4 separate regions of the Homo sapiens genome follow, and regions 2, 3 and 4 are each linked to region 1. Evidence: fine-mapped expression QTL. A gene starts in region 1. Each other region holds a variant in brackets. All regions are shown on one strand. Distances are between the middles of the regions.

Region 1 (5,568 bases):
TTAATCATTGTAGCATGTATGCAGCTTACTGGAGTAATTTAGGTTCCTGATTACATATAATCTTGTATGATCTCTTCTGTGTGTGTCGTGGGTGGGGGCAGTATGTGTATGTGTCTGTGAATCTGTGTGACTCTGTCTCAATCTCTGTATGTATGAGTCGTATTTGCTCAATCAGATTGTAAGTGCTTAAAAATAGAAAATTTTAGAGGCAACTTGAGCATGTATTTTAGTTAGAACTATGTTCAAATAGTGTTGTTCTTTATAATTAACTTTTATAGGTCTCTAAAGCTCTCTGAGCCCAACTTTTCTCATTTTTAAAATGTGAATAATAATATTCACCCCCCTAAGATGAAATAAATTCATAAATAAATAAATATATGCATGTAGCATCCAACGTACCCTCAATAAATGATTTTTCCTATGTTTTAACTTTTCTCACATCATTCATTCTAGTACTACAATGTTGAGTTCAGTTTCAACACTTTAGTTTGACTGATTGATCGAAGCTAACAAAATTAGGAAAGTTGAGATATACTGAGCTAATCAACTAGACCTTGCTACCACAGTCTCTCAACATGGTATATTATAAAAACATTTATCTCAGTAAGTCACTTCAATGACTAATCAATATTTTATTTTCCTGACGAAATGAAAATGCCAGGAAAATAGATGCACAATACTTTTAATGTGGTTATGTGTCTTTTAAGTATTAACAGAGTTGTTCATAGTGTTATTTGGAAGCGTTTATAATATGAAAAATACAGCATCTAATTTCCACTTGAAGAATTCGTATGCTATGAGTCATTTTATTTGGGCTTAATTTTTATTTAGTAATTAGCAGACTCAGAGAGGGTGAAATTTGCTGAGGGAGAGTATACCAACAGAACATACAAATGGGAATCAAGTAATTCATAAAAACAAAACCTGATATCTTGACATAAAATCCTAAATATTATACTGTAGTTTTTTGTATTAGTAAAACTAGAAGGATTTAAACTTAATGCACCGATGATTCCAGCCTTAGTGAAATGAAAATGTTTCTTAACCCCAAAGAATCCAGGCTCCTGATTAGCTCATGCGAAGACAATTATTTATGATAGCACTTACTGGTAAAGAGAAAGGACTGAAACCTTAGATGGGCACTTAGACGTGACTAAGGCAGGTTTTATTTCTGATCCCGAAGCACTGAAGAGGAAGTCTGCAGTGACTCAGAGCACTGTGATGGCCCAGCTGTCCACGGGCATACCTCTCTAGTGTGGAGTCAGGCATCATCATGCCAGAGGGAAGACTCACCATAGAAGAATCAGCATGTATTGACTCAACTGACACAGTCTTACCAGTAGTGAAAGAGAGGAACATTTTGTTAATCTTCTATTTGAAGTTAATTTTCACTGACTCCCAAAGCACATATGAAATGGCACACTGGGTCTAATTAATGTCTGCCTAGCCAGTATTCTGCCTCTGAAAATGATACCAGGGGCCATTTTCATAAGAAGCTTGGTAATTTCTTTCTAATATATAGATCTAATTATTATTATTATTATTTTCTGAGAGCCATTCATTCATTGGGGAAAGAAGCAGCCTGCTTTATTTGACATATTTATTTTACAGCCATTTCTCCTGTGTTGGAATGTGTCAGGTAAATCTGTCCAGTCAGTTAAGATACTCAGCATAAAATGGATACACCGAGGGAGAGAAGCACACAACACTTACTAGTATGACCAGTCATGGGTATGCTCCTTATTCCAAGAATGGCCACTTCTATTTTCTTATGTTTGTTTTTTGTTATTTTGGAACTTCTCAAATGAATTAGGAAGCAAGTACCACAATCAACAGGCCCCAAACCCAGTCATAGAAATATGTAACTAAGCTCCCTGTAAGAAATGATATTTTGTATTTTGGCATATCATTTTTGGCTTAAATGCCAAAATATTGCTGCTGTATGTCATTTTCTTAATAATTTATTCTATTTCTCTTTTAAAATATAAGTTGCCTAAGGATACCTATATACAGATGCATTTCATTAATGAATAAAACATATTTGGGTTAACAAAGATTATAGGCCTAAAATGTATATTGTTTTCCTTGGTTTTGGACAGTCTTGATGAAATGCGTATGTTTACTTGATAATTCTTTTGGATATGTCTTTTCTGACACCTCCCTCCCAGGTTTACATGCTTCCTCTTTGTGCTCCCTTAATACCTGTTTTTACCTTCTTTATATTTACCTGATTTCTTTTCCATTTCCTCCACTAGACTCTAAGTTCCTTGTGGCAGGGACCATTCTACTTGTCTTTGTCACTTCAAAATCTAGCAAAGGGTTTGACACATACCAAGTTCTTAAAAAGTGTCCATTGGATGAAGGAACCGTGTTAAGTTATTAATCTGTGATGTTCCAGTGTAATGACTTGTAAGAAAAATGTTTTTTTAAATCAGTAAAAATAACATAATTGGTTAATTTGATGAGTAGTCATTAAAATACAAGCCATGGACTGTGTACTGATTTAGCTCATGGTCTACAAATAGTACAGTGCCATTTTAAAGCCTTAAATGATAGACAACTTTACTCGATATGAATATCATTTACATTAACAATGGGAACCCCATACACTGTCTTCAAATTGTTCTTGATAACTAAATATATAAAATGGAAAGGATATGCATATATATTTCAATATCTGGATTTTGAAATTTGGAGCACAGAGGTGGAGTGTCATTTTATATTGAGAATGGAAAGTCAGGAGACTTGTGACACGTGATGCAATTGCTTCCATGGAATATTTTCAGACCAATAGGAGTTTGCGAAGAACTTTTATGGAGTGTATAAATATTTTGAGCTGTAGGCATCACTACCAGCTGATATTTTCTTTCCTCAGGACCAGCTGTTCAGGAGCATCCCGGACGAGAGCCAGGCACATTTGAGACTTGGATCCAACTAAAGACCGCCGCAGATTCTTCTGCAGCAATGTCGGTGTTAGAAGAAAATCGGCCGTTTGCTCAACAATTATCCAATGTCTACTTTACAATACTTTCGCTGTTCTGTTTTAAGCTTTTTGTGAAAATCAGCCTTGCCATCCTCAGTCATTTCTACATAGTGAAAGGCAACCGCAAGGAAGCGGCAAGGATAGCAGCTGAATTTTATGGAGTAACCCAAGGACAAGGTATGTTTATGATAATCCTCTCTTGTTTCAAGTGGAGTTTAACTTTCATCTGATCCACAATTACATGTTTTCTTTTTAGACTGCTTCAAGGTAAATATTTTATAAACTTTTGTTAAGGGAAATACTTGTAACTCACTTCGTGGCTTTATAAAAAGGAAAATTACTTTTTTAATGTAAATGTTTGGGTTAAAATCAAGGTATCATTGCAAAAGAGATTAAGGAAGGCATACTATATATATAATAGGAATATATATATGTAATAGAAATATATCTATTCCTATTAAGAAACATTTTAAAAAGTTAAACATTTGATCTGCCAAGTCATAGTATTAGAGATTAGTTTTAGAAGTAATTGATTGCACTTCAGTCGTCCTCTAATGTGTACCTGGATTGTATAATTTTAAATTAAATCTTTAGTTATGTGTAAAATAATTGTTATTAAAAAGAGGGGATTTCAAGATTTGGTTTCTCACAACTTTAATAAGATAACCATTTGACTCTAAAATAAAGCACACACACAAAGAAGATTGACGACATGTGTTTTTCTGATGGAATTGTTACTGCTCAGCTCAGTTTGTAAAAAATTGGTTATAAAAGGATAGAAACATAATTAATACATTTTATATGTGTGCAGCCAAGTGCATCCATGTTCTTTAGAAGAAATTGTAGTATGAAACCAAATGAGAAACAATATTACCCATAGACTTCAGAAGGTTGTAAAACCATTTAGGTTCTATTGGGTCGGTACTCTAAAAAATAAAAATGACTCATATGGCAGGCTTTAAAGTGCCATTTTTAAATTCTCATAGTCTTCAGATTCATTTCTGATTTGAAAATCAACAGGCATGCATGAATATTTATAGCCCAAATACCTCCAAAACAACTTAAATTGTCAGCATTGAAATTTACTATCACACAATTTAAACATGTAAACTTGAAAGAAAAGTCTCTTAGAGTAGAAAGCTTGCCTTCTTAAAATCCATGTTCCTACATTTTTCAATGTGGGATGCGACTCATTTTAAAATCTAGGTTACTCTATTAGTACATGGAAAGTTGAGTGAAGGTGGAAAATCTTTTTTAGTGTGTGAGGTAGATAGTGAGTACATGTTTCCTGAGGAAGACTGCAATTTGCAACATGAGGAATTGATGTTCTTATTCAAAATGAGGAAAATTTAAATGTTCATAAGAATCTCTTTAGGGAAAGATAAAATCTCAAGTAAATAGGCTGTATTTAACCCTTTACCTACCACCTCTGCCTTAGAACAGAGAGAACTATATTTTATACATTTATGGAGACTGGGGCTAACATTATCACCCAGGCTGGAGTGTAGTGAAGTGGAGTGGCTCAATTCTCACTGCATCCTTGAACTCCTAGGCTCAAGGGATCATCCTGCCTTAGCCTCCTAAGTAGCTAGGACACACAACCATGCCTGGCTAATTTTATTCTTTGTAGAGACAGAGTCTCAACATTGTCCGCCTAAGGTGGTCTCAAACTCCTGGGCTCAAGGGATCCTCCTGCCTCAGCCTCTGAAAGCTCTGGAATTACAGGTGTGAGCCTCCGTGCCAGGCCTGAACTATATCAAAATGTGACATATACACTATGTGATTAATCTGTACATAAAAAATTTAGTTGGCAAATGGAATATTTGTGTACAAAACAGCAAACATAGAAAACTAAATTTTAAAACAAAAGCCATATTTGCAGATACACGAGTAAACAGCTTACATGATCATAAAGTGGTAAAATTTACCCTCATGGGCGGCCTGTAGCACATTACTTCATAATCAGATCTTGTCTATGTATTATGAGAATTTCTCTACATTAACACATGAAATATTGCCTAAACAGAAGAAACATTTTTGTGGGTTGAAAAGAGTTTTAGAGGAGGCCATGGAAGCTCCTTTTTGTACATATTTTCAAATAAAAAGAAACACTCATCCCCTCATTAGACTTATCTTAGTGTGCTTATGCTGGGAAATCATGGGAATATATGCAATGGTTTCCACATTCCCATATACTTTTAGGATTCTGTTTTAAATTAAATTAGAATTCTAGGATTTTTTGTCTCAAGAAGGAAAGAAAAAAGGAAATCAATATCAATAGGAAACACTTTTCCTGGAAATATAAAATGGAAGCAAAGTTTTTACAAATTTTGTTTTGTGTTATTTTTAATGTTAGATGTATTTAACAAAAATTTCCCCTCTAATATCATGCATTAATCTGTATATGAAACAATAGAATATAGTATTATAATTTTAATTCAATATAAGCATAATTTGTTTCTAATTTTATTTTAACATTAAGAGAGCAAATCAGGTACCTTATAAAACTCTTTCTTAATCTTCTACTTCTAAGCATTCATTCTTTCTTGCCCAGGAAAATTATTACTTTCTACATTTTAACATAG
Region 2 (5,568 bases), 35 kb after region 1:
CTGTCAGTGTCCTGAAATAAACCACATTGGCCTGTTTTTGCAAATACTAACTTTAAACTGCGGGTGCTTTCCAGAATGCGGATTGAAATGCACATGTATGGCATGGCAAAGGACTGCTCTGTATTCTTGCCTTTTCGTGTATGGAAACTGCATCGGCTGACTCATTTTTGTGACTGTATATTAAACATGACTGCAAACTCTTAGACTCTGGTTTGTTTACCTTTCTGTTTCAGCAGGTGTTTCTAAGTTGGTATGGAAACAAGGAAAGATGCTATTAAGCAGGAAAAGACTGTTTACAGGCAATATGGAAATTTTAAATCATGTAAATTAGACATCAAGTAGGAGGATGATTTAGGCAAGAAAATGAGTAGAGCAACTTCCTAAAAGTGTTCTGACACGAAGTCATTAATTATAATGATAGAAAACTATGAAAGATAGAAAGGAGAATGAGCACAGTACCAAAGAGGAGGAATTATTTTTAAAAAGGAATATCCATACATTTGCATAAGTTTTAGTAGAACACCAGTATGATAGATGATAAATTTAAGGGTCGAAAATGCAGATTCAGAGAGAAAATGACTCTTGCCCCCCAAGATTGTAAGAGTTATATTTACTATGTAATAGCTGGAGCTTGAAGAATGTTATTATAAATGATTATGTTTTTCAAACATACAAAGCATATTTTCAAATAGGCTAAAACACTATAATTTCTTTCAAAGTTTGAGAAAGCAACTGGATCCCTACTCCCCACCCCAATACACATTTCCTTTTTGTTACTTTTCAACAACATAATTAACAACAAAATTGAGAAATATACCAGCAAGGAAAAAAGTGGTTGACTACAAAGAAGACAATTCAACAATTCAACAAATGCCTATCCAGTGTTGACTGCGTGCTAGACACTGTGCTAGAGGCGGGGAGCAGCAATAAGTAGTCTCATCATTTCATGGTCCTTAAAGTCCAGAAGGAATGCAATTATTAAAGAAATAAAGACAATCCTGTCATTTCTTAAATGAAGGGTAAGTTACCTAACTATGCACTAAACCGCAGGCATTAGCAACATAATAGAACTGTGTCAATGGCAAAAATTAAAAAAAAAAAATTAAGTAAACTAATTCACCTGGATGAGTCTCACATATCTTCAATGCAGATAGAGACTCTAAAGGAAGTTGAAAATAAGCTATCGTTTTATGTCAAAAATCTAATTTTCTATACAATTTTTTTTCGACATGCCTTAAATATACTGAAAATATAGAGCCAGGCCCAGTGGCACATACCTGTTATTCCAGTGACTCAGAAGGCTGAGGCAGGAGGATTGCTTGAGCCTGATTTGAAGGCTGCAGTGAGCGATGTTCAGAACATCACTGCCCTCCAGTCTGGATGACAGAGCAAGATTCTGTCTCTGAAAAAAAGGAGAAGAAAAAATATATAATAAAAAAAATGCCCCCATGCTATGATTTAAAATAAAAAAAAAAAAGACAAGTCTTAGCAAACTTTCACTAGATTTAGCTTTACATTTTCCCAGTGCTGTTAATGAGAATGTAAATAGGATCAGTCTTGCTGGAGGTAATTTGATGGTATGTGTCAAAATTTTAGGAATTTACCCTAAGCAGATAATTATTCACAAAGATAAGTAATAATATTTGATTTCCCAAAACTAAAAGCCACCTAAACATCATTTGATAGATAATTAAATAAATAAATACACACATAATGCTCTAGCTATATGATTAAATACATATCAATATATCATAATCACTTGTGGTAGAACTATATTTTTTCACATAGAACAATGACCATGAGATATCTTAAATGAAAACAAATCAGTTAAAAACCTTACAAACACTATGATTGTATCTTGATTAAAAAATGTGTGTTTCTAGAAAAAAGTTGGAAAGATACACCCTAAAATGTTTATAATGGTTGTACTTAGAAATAAGCACTATGATTTCTTGTGTATGTCAAATTTCACTTATTTAATGTACAACTTTTATAATCAATAAGGTATTATAGTTAATAGTACTGTATTGCTGTGTTTTGCTACTATTTCAAATATACTATTATTATATGAAAATGTAGAAAACACAATTCCACAATTCTTCCTTTTATTGAAGTAACTCTTCATTTGTCTAGTCTGTTAGTTACATTTATTATGGACTCATTATGGAATAACAGTCCACCAAGTGCCCTATGAGTTCTAGGGTTGAAAAGAATATTGTACCCTAAAATTTCAACTGGACATTCAAAAGAACGGAGTTTGCTTCCTGGCTTTGTCAGTTATTGTTTATAACTTGAGGCAAGTTATTTAATTCCCCTAAGTCCTAATGCAATGGAAATCATAACATTGACTTTCTTAAGAACACACTTTGTGTTAGACACTTCTCATGTCCATGTAACCCTTAGAACAACTAGAATATGTAAGTATGATTGCCCCCATTTTATAGTGAGGAAACTGAAACTTAGCAGTGTAAAAAACAGAGTGAGCCAATATGTGATAGAGTCAGGAGTCCAATTCGGATATGCCTCCTTTCACAGCCCTTGATTTTAACCCCATTACAAAGCTCCATACGGCTGCTCAGACAAGGTTCTAATGAAGCTGGGTGTGATCATGTGACTTTGAGCACTCATTCAT[G/T]CAACAAACATTCACTGATGTGCTAGGTATTGAGGATATGGTAATGAATGAAATCAACTGAGTCTCGCTTTCTAAGGTCTAGCATTCTAGTAATAAGTGCTGAGAAGAAAAGTAGAGCAGGGAAAGGAGACAAAGCATGAATGTTGGGGAAGGGACAGGGAGGATTTTTTAATAGAAGGTTGTCAAGAAGGCCTCTCTGATAAGGTGATATTTCAGAGAGCACTAAAGTCAGAGAACAAGTGATGTGGGTCTCAGAAAGGAGTACTTCAGAAAGAGCAAACAGAAGGTTGTGTAAGGAAAAGCAAGGAGGCCAGTATGTCTGGATGAGGATGATGGGCCTAGGAAAAAGTGGGTAGAACCCGAGATCAGAGCCTGGAGAGTTCATAGGTCATGACAAAGACTTCGGATTTTATTCCAGGTGTGAAGGGAAGCCATGGGATTCTTTCTAACTTCCAAAGGATTGCTTTGGCTCCCATGTTTAGTACAGACTACTGGAAGGGCATGGGCAGAAACACACTGACTAGTTAGGAGACTTTTGCAATACATCAGATGAGAATAATGGTGGCTTGGACTAGGGTATAGTGGTGGAGGCTGAGATACAAAGTTTGGATACATTTAAATGATAGAGGCAAAATGACTTCCTGGTGTGCGCCTGGTGGGTGTGAGAAACAGAAACTAAGGATTATGCAGAGGGTTTTGGCCTTGAAGCACCTGGATGAGTGCAGTTGCCATTTGCGGATCGGGAGAAGTTAGGAGTAAGGAATCAAGGGTTCGGTTTGGGACATGTTAAGTTGTATTACCTATTTAGATATTCAAGTGGAGAAGTTGAACAGCCAAACCTAAAATTGGGGTAATCAATATGTGGATAATATTTATGTTCATGGCACTAGAAGGGAGCTCCTCAAGAGTTAATGTAGATAGATGCAAAGACTGAGCTTGGATGATGAGGACTCAAGGTGGGAAAAGAAACTACCGCAACAATGGAAAAAAACACTGGGCCAAAAACAACTGACTCCTTTCAAAGAAGCACACGAAACACTCAATATATAAAGTTTCCTTGACAATTATTGCGGTTAAATTTGAGACCATATTATCATTACCAGGTGATGGAGGGAAATGGTAACACTGTTTAAACCAATAGAGAAATGAAAAAAGACTAGCTAATCTTAAGAGAAAGATGCTGGCTTTTAGAAATGGATTGAGATGCCAGGAAAATATCTAGGTGAATCCCCAGAAGTAAATTTTAACATGTGGCGCTGAAATTTGTGGGAGAGATCAGCGTGGGAGCTATGTAGATTAGAGTAATCCATATGCATGTAATAATTGTTACTAAATTTTGACAATATCTATTTTTGTCTCCTACAGATATATAGCCAAGAGGAATAAGATGAGATAAAGCATCTTTATCTTAAATAAGTTATCCTTCCTTCTGTTTAGAAGATGTAGTTAAAAGCTGATGGGGAAGATATATGAAAGTAATTGTTTAAAATGAAATTTGGGTTGTATTTGTGATGTTTCAAATGCATTTAGTACTGTGCTAAGTACTTTACATTCATTACAATTCAGTGAGGCAGGTAGACTCATCCTTGTTTTTACAGTTGAGAAAACTGGGTTTCAAGATGTTAACTGCCAAAGGTCACATAACTAGTAAATATCTATGCTGGAATTTGAACTCAGGTCTATCTTATAGTTAAATCCAGCATGCTCTATCCATGGCACCAGTGATCAGTAATAGTTAATTGAGATAGCTGATAGCTTGAAAATTATTGTGCTTAAATTTGAGACCATATGATTATTACCAGGTGATGGAGGGAAATGGTAACACTGTTTAAACCAATAGAGAAGTGAAAAAGGAATAGCTAGTCTTAAGAGAAAGATGTTGGCTTTTAGAAATGCATTGAGATGCCAGACATTATTTCCCTTGAAACCATGTTTCAAGGATTTCTGTGGCTCTGTGGTTGTCTGAAAGTATACAATAAAGGCTAGTAAATGCCTGGTGATTTTTAATTTGCTTATAAACTTGTGAGTAGAGATGGGCTACATGTTGTCAAGTCTGAAGCTTATACTGTATACACTTTGGGGGCTCCTTTAAGAAAAGTAACATGAAATTAGGGACAGAGTCTTAGAAGGGGAGTCTGTGCAGGTTAAGGGTTTCACTGGCTTCATGGTAAATCCACCTCCATTGTGAAGACGATTGTTGGTTTAATATTTTACAGGGGCCAGGCTCGGTGGCTCACATCTATTCCAGCACTTTGGGAGGCCGAGGCGGGTGGATCATCTGAGGTCAGGAGTTGGAGACCAGCCTGACTAACATGGTGAAACCCCCATCTTTACTAAAAATACAAAAATCAGATGGGTGTGTTGGCACATGTCTGTAATCCTAGCTACTTGGGTGGCTGAGGCAGGGGAATCACTGGAACCTGGGAGGTGGAGGTTGCAGTGAGCCGAGATCGCACCATTGCACTACAGCCTGGGTGACAAGAGCAAAACTCCAACTCAAAAAAAAAAAGTATATATATATATATATAAAATAGGTAAGAGATCTGAAAAAGGTATTGCCATTTTTTACTGAAATGAACATGTTATATGAAATGTCATTGCTTATTCCCTCTCCTTATAATTAATTCCCTAATTTTCCTATTTTGAGAACACTGAGGAAGAGCAGGTGTGGCTAAACTCTGCACCATTGCTAAGCTAGCTCTCTATTGAGTCCACATCCTGCTTCTGCTGATGGGATGTTCTAAGATTGGGAGCAGGTAAAGACTTTTTTGTTTATTTGTTTTGTTTTGTTTTGAGACAGAGTCTCACTCTGTTGCCCAAGCTGGAGTGCAGTATTGGGAACACAGCTCACTGCAGCCTCAAACTCGGGCTCTAGCGATCTTCTCATCTCAGGACTTCCCTAGTAGCTGGCATTTACAGGGGCATGCCACCATGCC
Region 3 (5,568 bases), 22 kb after region 1:
CACTTTTAGCTCTGAATGCTAAATAATGCTATGCACATTTATTTTGACTTTTGGTGAATCAGTTTCCTGGCCAGAGAAACTTTTAGCACAAAGAACCCAAGCTACCTTTTGTGAATTTATCACGCCCGTGACCTCAGCCACCCTATTCCAGAACGTAAATGTACTTGACCGAACTCAGAACAGCTGCACTGAGTCACCAAATAATGTGTAATCATCATTATTTTAGGACACTCCCTGTGGCCTTGCAGGTGATATTTCACTTAACTCACTTTCTTTTTCTTTTTCTTTTTTTTTTTTTTTTTGAGATGGAGTCTCACTCTGTCACCCAGGCTGGAGTGCAGTGGTGTGATCTCGGCTCACTGCAAGCTCCGCCTCCCGGGTTAATGTCATTCTCCTGCCTCAGCCTCCCGAGTAGCTGGGACTACAGGCGCCCGTCACCACGCCCGGCTAATTTTTTGTGTTTTTAGTAGAGACGGGGTTTCACTGTGTTAGCCAGGATGGTCTCCATCTCCTGACCTCGTGATCCACCCGCCTCGGCCTCCCAAAGTGCGGGGATTACAGGCGTGAGCCACCGCGCCCGGCCAACTCACTTTCTTTTAAGGATCGCCTAAGGTCACTTAAAGAATGCTGTTGGAAATTTTGCTTCCCCAGCCCTCTGGAGCACTCGTCTAACTCCATGTTTTCTCATCCTCTCCACCAAGCACAGTTTCATATGAGGAGAAATTTCCTAGGTCTTCTCGGATGCCCTGTTACTTCTCAGCACCAATGGGAGAAGAACTGAAGTCTCTTATTACCCTCAGTGGTAGAGCAGACATTCAGCAGATCTGCTCTCCCAATCAGGGAGAGCAGAGAGTCCCACTAAGACTGCAGGTTGGAATAAAGAACAGCAGGGTAAGAAGAGCCAAGTGTTTACTCTTCTCTTCTCATATTGGGAGTGTCGCATTTTCTGTTAACCTCTGCCTCTATTTTAAAATCTTTTTACCTGGGATCTTTTTGTTAATTAGTATTTTCTTGATCATAAAATACGCCGCAACTGGGAAAAATGGTCAGAACTTTGTTTACAGAGTTTAATACAAGATTTTGAAACACAAAACTGTATAGGGCAGATGCGGTGGCTCACGCCTGTAATCCCAACACTTTGGGAGGCTGCGGCGGGCAGATTACTTGAAGTCAGAAGTTCAAGACCAGCCTGGCCAAGATGGCGAAACCCTGTCTCTACTAAAAATACAAAAATTAGTCGGGTGTGGTGGCCCACGCCTGTCATCCCAGCTACTCGGTAGGCTGAGGCAGGAGAATCGTTGGGACCCGGGAAGCAGAGGTTTCAGGGAGCCAAGATCACACCACTGTACTCTAGCCTGGGCGACAGAACAAGACTCTGTCTCAAAAAAGCAAAACAAAACAAACAAAATGTAAACCTGTATAACAACCATTCAAGTCACGAAATAGAACCCCAGAAGCCTTCATGTATCTCTTTTCAATCACAATACCTTCTCCTTCTCCCATCAAGACCGAGTGACTAGTTTTTATAGTAATCATTTTCTTGCCTTTCTTTAGTTTCAGCTCCTATGCATACATCTCATATTGATATGGTTTAACCTATTTTTGAACCCTATATTAATTGAATCATTCTCTAAATATTCTTTTGTTATTTACTTTTACAATGAACAGTATGATATAATTGCCTACATATATCTAGGTTCATTCATTCTCAATAATGTAAATTCCATTACCAATTTGGGGCAATTATGAACAATATTTCTATAAACATCTAGTATAAATAAGTTTTTATAGCTCTAGAAGTGAAATTTCCAGGTCATAGGGCCTGTGTATCTCCAGTTTCTAAGACAGTATTGCCCTGTTTTCCAATGTGGCTGTATCTGTGGTGAAACCCCAGCAGGTTATGAGAATTCACATATTGTCAGTACTCTTAATATTTGCCAATGTGGGCTGGGTACAGTGGCTCACACCTGTAATCCTAGCTCTTTGGTAGGTCGAGGTGGGTGGATCACTTGAGCTCAGGAGACCAGCTTGGGCAACGTGGCAAAACCCCATCTGTACAAAAAATACAAAAGTTAGCCAGGCATGGTAGTGTGCACCTGTAGACCCAGTTACTTAAGAGGCTGAGGAGGGAGACCCACCAGAGCCTGGGGAGGGTGAGGCTGCAGTGAGCCATGATCGTGCCGCTGCACTCCAGCCTGCATGACAGAGTGACTCAATCTCAAAAAAATGAAAAGATAAAAAATAAAAAATTGCCAATATGGTGGGCATGTGGGAGTATATTATGGTTTAATTTTCATTTCCCTGACTAATAATGCCATTTTGATTTTTGTTGACCATTTGTACTTCTTCCTTTGCAATGTGCTCGCCAAATATTTTGCCTTCTATTCTATCAGGCCATCTGTCTTCCCCCTTTTTAAAATTGAGTTTTAGAAGTTATTTTGTATCCTAAAATTGTTAAGAAAATGAAAACATTTAGAAGAACTATTTACAAATATCTTCTGTGGCTTGACTTTTCACTTTTTATTGGTGTTTCTACTGGTGAACAGAAACTCTTAATTTAAAAATAGTCAAATTTACAAATCCTTTCCACTTTGATTAAGACTTTTTGTGGAATTCATCTTAAAAATCTTTTGGCACTTCAAGGTAATGGAAGTATTTCTTCCATATACTTAAAGCATTCCTTTGAAATTCATCCACTTGAATTTAATTTTTTGTATGGTGTAAGTCCATTTTTCACCAAATGCATGGTCAATTATATTCACACCATGTATTGGAAAGTGGGTTCTATATTTCATAATCTATAGTCACTACAGTGCCCAGTTTGTGTAAGTCTAGTGTTTATTCATGCATGAGTCTGCTTATGGGCTCTTATCAATTACATTGCTCTGGACCTATACTACACTAAACTGATTTCTGTAGCTTTAGAATAGGTCTTCATAGACAGAACAAGATCTCCCACATTCTTCTATTTTTTCATAGTTTTGGCTATTCTTGGTAATTTGAAATTCTATGTATCAATTTTAGAAGTAATTTCTGTGGTTCGCACAATACTTGTTGCATTTTTGTTGGAATTCATTGAA[C/A]CTATAAATCATTTATTTGAAGGAGAATCTACAACTTTGTAATACTTGGCTTTTCAATCATAAATGTAATATAGTTTCTCATTTATATAGGTTTTATTGAATATCTCCCAATAATGTTTTATTATCGTCTCCTGGGGAGATCTTACATATATTTGTTGAATTTATTCATAGGTAACAAATTGTTTTATGCTACCATAAATAATATCTTAATAAATTTTTACATTTTCAACCTGTTTGTCAAGGGCAGAGAGAAATACATTAATTTTTGTATATTAATTTCATACCAAAGAACTTTTCTAAGCTCTCTTATTAATTCTAATAGGAATCTATGGGTTCTATAGGGATTTTTTATGTGAAAAGTTATATTATTTGTGAATAATGAGAGTTTTGTTTCCTTTCTAAATGTTGTACCATTTTTATTTCTTCTTCTTTCTTTATTCTATGGATTAAACCTCTTGTATGATGTTGAATAGATTGGTGGTAGGGAGTGTTCATTTTTGTTTTTCAATTGAGAGGGAAAGCCTTCGACATTCTGTCATTAACCATCACGTCTTCTGAAGGTTTTCTGTTTTGTTTTTGTAGCTACCCCTTACCATTCTTAAGGAAGTATCTCACTTTGAGCTGTGTACACATCTAGACATTCAGTATACTGAGGAGAGTTTGCTTCTGCAAATGCATTTTTAAAAAAGCATTCCCCGTATCATTATTGGTGTAGTTCATGTTTCAGCTTTAATATCTGGAGAAACAGTTCACAGCACCTGAACTCACTAAATAAGCAACTGCACTGTGGTGTGGACTGTCTACACTCATACTCTGTGGTCATGGCTAGTGCTGTGATACTGGTTTAAGTGAAATTATCTTTCAGAGTCCATTCCTTACATCCTGAATACATGTACTGCATGTATCTGATAGGTGGTCTGAAAGGTTCTTCTTTTTCTTAAGATAAGATTTTAAAAAGACTTTATAGAAGATTGCCTCAGAAAAATCTCATCGAATAGCATCATTCTTCCTTTTTCCCTATTATCTCTTGACCCATAAATAGTCTTATAGTAGCTGTAAAAGCCTTTCCCCTTATGGTTAAAATTAAATACAGTAAAACATTTTCCCCCACTTCTTCCAATTCTGATATTTTAACAGCAACACAGCAAGTTCTAATTAGCCTAAGTTAAATAACCATTACTAATTTTACACCAAGATCAATATGGGGGATTTCTTTTTTTTTATCTGTGTAATTTTTTTTTATATACTTTAAGTTCTAGGGTACATGTGCACAACGTGCAGGTTTGTTACATATGTATACAAGTGCCATGTTGGTTTGCTGCACCCGTTAACTCATCATTTACATTAGGTATTTCTCCTAATGTTATCCCTCCCCCAGTCCCCACCCCACGACAGGCCCCAGTGTGTGATGTTCCTCACCCTGTATTCAAGTGTTCTCATTGTTCAATTCCCACCGAAGAATAAGAATATGCGGTGTTTGGTTTTTCTGTCCTTGCGATAGTTTGCTCAGAATGATGGTTTCCAGCTTCATCCATGTCGCTGCAAAGGACATGAACTCATCCTTTTTTATGGCCGCATAGTATTCCATGGTGTATATGTGCCACATTTTCTTAATCCAGTCTGTCATTGATGGACATTTGGGTTGGTTCCAAGTCTTTGCTATTGTGAATAGTGCCACAATAAACATACGTGTGCATGTGTCTTTATAGTAGCATGATTTGTAATCCTTTGGGTATATACCCAGTAATGAGATGGCTGCGTCAAATGGTATATCTAGTTCTAGATCCTTGAGGAATCGCCACACTGTCTTCCACAATGGTTGAACTAGTTTATACTCCCACCAACAGTGTAAAAGCATTCCTATTTCTCCACATCCTCTCCAGCACCTGTTGTTTCCTGACTTTTTAATGATCGCCATTCTAACTGGTGTGAGATGATACCTCATTGTGGTTTTGACTTGCATTTCTCTGATGACCAGTGATGATGAGCATTTTTTCATGTGTCTGTTGGCTGCATAAATGTCTTCTTTTGAAAAGTGTCTGTTCATATCCTCTCCCCACTTTTTGATGGGGTTGTTTGATTTTTTCTCATAAATTTATTTAAGTTCTTTGTAGATTCTGGATATTAGCCCTTTGTCAATATGGGGGATTTCTTTGTGTTTCATTATGTTTGCATAGCTTCATAACGTATCTCATCACTTCCTGGTAATGAATAATTAAGTTTATCTGGGAACTCCTGAAGAGCTGGCTTTAGGGGACAGCTTATAAAGAGGGTGGTGACTGAGGTGAGGCCTGGGTCATCTTTTTTGTTATTGTTGCTGTTGTTGTTGAGATAGGATCTCTGTTGCCCAGGTGAGAGCACAGTGGTGCAATCATAGCTCACTGCAGCCTTGAACTCCTGGGCTCAAGTGATCCTCCCCACTTGAACCTGTAGTGTGCCTGTAGTCCCAGCTACTCAGGATAAGCCCCGACATCCTGAGTATCTGGTG
Region 4 (5,568 bases), 53 kb after region 1:
CATACATATATATTTATATATCATACAAATATATATATTTATATATCATACAAATATATATATTTATATATCATACAAATATATATATTTATATATCATACAAATATATATTTATATATCATACATATATATTTATATATCATACAAATATATATATTTATATATCATACAAATATATATATTTATATATCATACAAATATATATATTTATATATCATACAAATGTATATATCATACAAATATATATATATTTATATATCATACAAATATATATATATTTATATATCATACAAATATATATATTTATATATCATACAAATATATATTTATATATCATACATATATATTTATATATCATACAAATATATATATTTATATATCATACAAATATATATATCATACAAATATATATATTTATATATCATACAAATATATATATCATACAAATATATATATTTATATATCATACAAATATATATATATTTATATATCATACAAATATATATATTTATATATCATACAAATATATATATTTATATATCATACAAATATATATTTATATATCATACATATATATTTATATATCATACAAATATATATTTATATATCATACAAATATATATATCATACAAATATATATATTTATATATCATACAAATATATATATATTTATATATCATACAAATATATATATATTTATATATCATACAAATATATATATATTTATATCATACAAATATATATATTTATATATCATACAAATATATATATTTATATATCATACAAATGTATATATTTATATATCATACAAATATATATATATAGAAATTACTGTTAGTAATTGTTGATTGATTGTTATTTTCAGACCCTTTTCTTCCATAAAATTGACATAACCAACAAAGTTTATGCTTTCTTTATGGAAATTTTGTTATGGAATATAATTTTTTCACGAAACATTTTATATTTGTTTTAAAAATATTGAAAATGATTACATTTATTGAAATTTGAAAGGAGCAGAAGGGCCATAAAGGGACACTTTAACTGTACTGCTTCATGAAGACATCATTAGTTTTAAAGATAGTATCGGAAAACAGAGTTGAAAAGAACTTATGCATTTTTATTGGTAGACATTTCTGGTATTGTAACCGTTTATGTACCAGAAAATGGGATGGTTATTTTTAACAGTACTAAACAGCATTTATTTATTGCAAATGCATTGAATGACCAGCATGTGCCAGGCTTTGCACTGGGATAAAGTAAGTGTGCAATAGGTAATGTAGCATGTAGGCTGTATTTTAACATAAGCATTTTTAAAAGCTTTCCTTTCATGCAGATATCATCAATGTGCCTTTTGATTTAAAAGGCTCAATATCTTTATATACTTACTGACTTAAACTACATAAGTGAGAAATGGCAGGAAAATCTATATACATTTTACCTAAATAGCTCACATATTCATGAGTTTCCCAAGAAAACCAAAGAGCTTCATTGCCTTAAATAAATGAAAAGAATAATAGAAATAAGCACCTGAATAATTCTAAAAGCTATCAACCATGATGAAAATAAAAATGAGTGAACTTAATTGTGCACTCTTTATAATAGTAGTTAGTATGGTTACTTTTGGAATCATTTAAAAGTTAAAAAGAATTTTATTATGATAGTTCAAGCATACAGAAAAGTATCAGAGAGTCACATAACAAATGTATGTACCCTCTGCCATTCAGATGTGCCCAGTTTATATATATGTATATGTACATATGAGGCATATATGTGTATGTAGATACTGTATATGTATATAAAGAAATAACTCATAACAAATAGAGTTGAAGTCCCCTTAATAACCTTCCTCTATTGCCTTTCCTTTTCTATCCCCACTGAGGCAGCTGGCTTATTTAACAACTTTTATTTATATTTATCTTCACTCCGTATTACATGTAGGTGCTGACGTACAGAAAGGCAAATATTGGGATACTCCATTACATGCTGCTGCTCAACAATCCAGCACAGAAATTGTAAACTTACTGCTAGAATTTGGAGCAGATATCAATGCCAAAAATACAGAGCTTCTGCGACCTATAGATGTAGCTACGTCTAGCAGTATGGTGGAAAGGATATTGCTTCAACATGAAGGTAAGAAAAATACATGTGGAAACTTACAAAAACAAAATATATTTGCCTAAAATAGATGAAAGTGAGAGAGTTTTTGTTGGCATGGAAAGTAACAATGGCATAAAATGTGGAATATTATTTGTGAAAGTAGATGATTTTTAACTTAGGTTTTATCTATAAAGAAGATATCAGC[C/T]GAGTGTGGTGGCTCACACCTGTAATCCCAGCACTTTGGGAGGCCAAGGCGGGTGGATCACAAGGTCAAGAGATCAAGGCCATCCTGGCCAACATGGTGAAACCCTGTCTCTACTAAAAACACAAAAATTAGCTGGGCATGGTGGTGCGTGCCTGTAATCTCAGCTACTCAGGAGGCTGCGGAAGGAGAATCACTTGAACCCGGGAGGCGGAGGTTGCAGTGAGCCAGGATTACGCCACTGCACTCCAACCTGGCAACAGAGTGAGACTCCATCTAAAAAAAAGAAAAAAAATGATAATTTTAATTTTCTCTTTCATCTTACCTAAACTCTCATATATTTTTGGTTAAATATATTCAATTAGTTTCAGTAATGCATTATATGCACTTCTGGTATAATATCTGCTGATTTATATTTGGAGCATGCCCCATTTTATAAGGACATGAACCTTCTATAACATATTATAGAAATAAAATTAGTAAATATTTTTACATTTGAGACTTTTGTTCTAAAATAGGATTTCTTAATCCTAGTCCAGGGACTATAATATTTCTTTTAGGGTAAATATTAAACTTAATTTTAAAATTTCCCCTTTTAGTGCATAATACTTCTCAGGACTTTTGATTTATATCTCCTTCAAAAAGCAGACTTTGTTTCTGAGGCTTTAAATTCAACAATTATTTCCTAAGCCTGAGGATTATAATATTTTAAGGAATGTATATGGAATATATCTCAATTATAATAAGATCTTATAAATAAAAGCAATATAACTGCTTACATAAATTTCCCTAGTATAGTGGTCATGCTATCCTAGGTTTACTACAAAGCATTGTAGTTTTTATGGTTTTATGTTATGTACCTTACAACATAAAAAATTCATTTCTATTTTAATTAACAAATAGATTCATGTCTTCTTGTAGCTACCCCAAGCTCTCTTTACCAACTTTGCCGACTCTGTATCCGAAGCTACATAGGAAAACCAAGATTGCACCTTATCCCACAACTCCAGCTGCCAACGTTACTGAAGAATTTCTTACAGTATCGATAAAACAGTAAAGTAATTCTAAATACCTTGAAAATCAAAATTTCTATTTCTTTTGCTTAAGGAATAGTTCATATAAAAATATGCTAAAGATAGGATAAAAGTGAGTGTGAGATCACCCAGGGAAGCAGTAAAATATCAATTTTCATTTTAAGTGTATTAGTACTATTGTTTTATCATTTATGCTGTCTTTGGATTATAGCATATTTATAATATCTATTTTTTGTTATTTCAATATACCCTCCTGTTTATTCAGGAAAAAATAATAAAGTCACTATCTTATGTTTTCTTTTGGATTGGAAAGAAATAAAGCTCCTAGTAAAGTTATTCATATTATATTTAAAAAGGTCTATGTTCTTCAACTAATGGGTTAACTTTTTAATTTTGGCTATTGTAATTGGCTAACTTGTTACTGATATTGACATAAAATATGAATATGGCTTAGCAAAGAGCAACTAATATGTTTTCTGAAACCAGGATGATGCTCATTCAGGAAATCCACTATGTTGAATGTCCACTGGTCATTAGAATGAACACTTCATAAAGATAAATTGCCCCCCTCTCCCCCACTTACCCCTGGCAAAGGACTCACAAGTCACTTCTCTTCTCCATAGTACATGGACTTGTTACAGAAAAGTGATAGGATGAAAGGTCAATACTGCCCTCTCACCCTGAGATATTTAGAACATTACACACCTTCTAAGGCTATGTTAAGACTGCCTCCTTCTCAGGAGTAGCCCCTGATGATCTCTTATCAAGGCGGTTATATGCATATTACTCCAGCCTTCTTCCATTTCAGAAATTGTCAATAGCTAGTGATACTTGGACTTAAGAAAATGAACTATATATCTAATTAACAAACAGGCCCTGGATCATATTCCGGGGATCATCACATCAGTCCAAGGATATAAAAAAATGGAAGATTAAAAACTCAAATTGTGGAGTTTTTAAAGAGTGGGTGCCACTTAACACATTGGAGACCTTAAAAAATGTATATAGAGAACTTAATCGCACTGTTTCTAATTCTTTTTACACAAAACAAGGGCTTAGAGTATACTGTATTTGCAAGTAATAGCAAGAGAGTATTGTATAAAAGAAGATATTACTAAGCTAGTCCTCTGCAAGGGTAAATACTACGTTTATTCTCTTCAGCTTTAACTATACTTGAGTGCAATAAAAAACTTAATAAAATTTTATGCCTGTTTTGTAATTCAGGGCCTATTATGATTTTAGAAATAAGATAATCAACGTACAACTCTTTGTAAAACAAAAGCAACTTTGGGTGAGTTTTATAGATTTATTAAATTTTGATAAAGTAAATATTTTGACCACTATTTTCAACAACCCAGGGCTTATTTTCTTCTGACTTCTTGGCTAACTTCCAGACTATGGGAAAATAAATTATGATTGTATGTGACCCCCAGATCACTAAGCTTGCATTTTGGCAGAAAGAAAAAAAATCAGTTGTGATTTAAAACGTTTGTTGAGATTTTCAAACATAGAAATAAAGCTGTAGCATATTCACTAAACAATGTTTTATATGAGGATAGGGACCTTTAAATATGTGTTTTATAGAATATCTCACACATTTGTAATGGATAACGTGCATTAAAATGGAGTTCTTATTATAGAATAACCTGGTTAAACAGATATTAAAGCTGCTTTTGGGTAAAACAGGTTTCCACCAGTATTTTCCCTGAGCTAGAGGAGAAGTCTTAGATTTTAAGAGTAATACAACCCATCTATCTTATTAGTCTTGTGCCAATAAGAGAAGTAAATATCAAACATTAAAATGGTCACTTTACAATTTCAGTATGTCTGTACCTTGTATCTTAGCTTGAGTATGATTGTCTTATCAAAGTAGTGTTCTAACTTTAATGTATTGTATGTTTGTTATTATATTAAAGTGTGATTATTATTCATTGGAATAAAACACTTTGTGTTTGTCTCATTATTTTATTTTATAATGAAAAGTCATGGAGTGACTCAGTTGCACTAATTTTTTTCACCACCAGTTTCCAAATCACTGAATCATGAGCATTAAGATAGAGTAGCACAGAATAAAAAATAGATACCTCAAAGACCTTCTAATCCAAGACATATTTTATATATATGTGACATATAATACATATAATATATGTGATATTTAATACATATAATATACATATATACATATATGTATACACACACATTAAAGTTCAAGGACAAAATTTCACAAAGTAAAAG

Which allele goes with the higher level. Alleles are on the strand shown, and positions count from the first base shown. SD is a standard deviation of normalised expression in the study named. Not every link is listed here.
With allele G in place of T in region 2, the expression in spinal cord of the gene that starts at base 2,851 in region 1 is lower (large effect, 1.1 SD a copy in GTEx).
For the expression in cerebral cortex of the gene that starts at base 2,851 in region 1, allele A in region 3 goes with a higher level than allele C (moderate effect, 0.59 SD a copy in GTEx).

Evidence for each region. PIP is the estimated chance that this variant, and not a neighbour inherited with it, causes the effect.
Region 2: its variant is the best candidate, but not a certain one, in a credible set for the expression of ASB5 in spinal cord (GTEx, PIP 0.80).
Region 3: its variant is the best candidate, but not a certain one, in a credible set for the expression of ASB5 in cerebral cortex (GTEx, PIP 0.51).
Region 4: its variant is the best candidate, but not a certain one, in a credible set for the expression of ASB5 in cerebellar hemisphere (GTEx, PIP 0.63).

What each region holds. Positions count from the first base shown.
Region 1 is chr4:176,266,505-176,272,072 of GRCh38, reverse strand. It overlaps ASB5 (ankyrin repeat and SOCS box containing 5), which reads left to right and starts at 2,851. Exons shown (of 7, transcript NM_080874.4): 1 at 2,851-3,160. The coding sequence starts at 2,965.
Region 2 is chr4:176,231,702-176,237,269 of GRCh38, reverse strand. All of the region lies in intron 1 of ASB5 (ankyrin repeat and SOCS box containing 5), which reads left to right. Among named protein-coding and RNA genes, the nearest start is that of ASB5, 35 kb to the left of the region's middle. RefSeq lists an enhancer at 3,047-3,216. The variant G/T (reference allele first, on the strand shown) is at 2,633.
Region 3 is chr4:176,244,799-176,250,366 of GRCh38, reverse strand. All of the region lies in intron 1 of ASB5 (ankyrin repeat and SOCS box containing 5), which reads left to right. Among named protein-coding and RNA genes, the nearest start is that of ASB5, 22 kb to the left of the region's middle. The variant C/A (reference allele first, on the strand shown) is at 3,081.
Region 4 is chr4:176,213,380-176,218,947 of GRCh38, reverse strand. It overlaps ASB5 (ankyrin repeat and SOCS box containing 5), which reads left to right. Exons shown (of 7, transcript NM_080874.4): 6 at 1,939-2,130; 7 at 3,221-5,275. The coding sequence ends at 3,348. Among named protein-coding and RNA genes, the nearest start is that of SPATA4, 21 kb to the right of the region's middle. The variant C/T (reference allele first, on the strand shown) is at 2,303.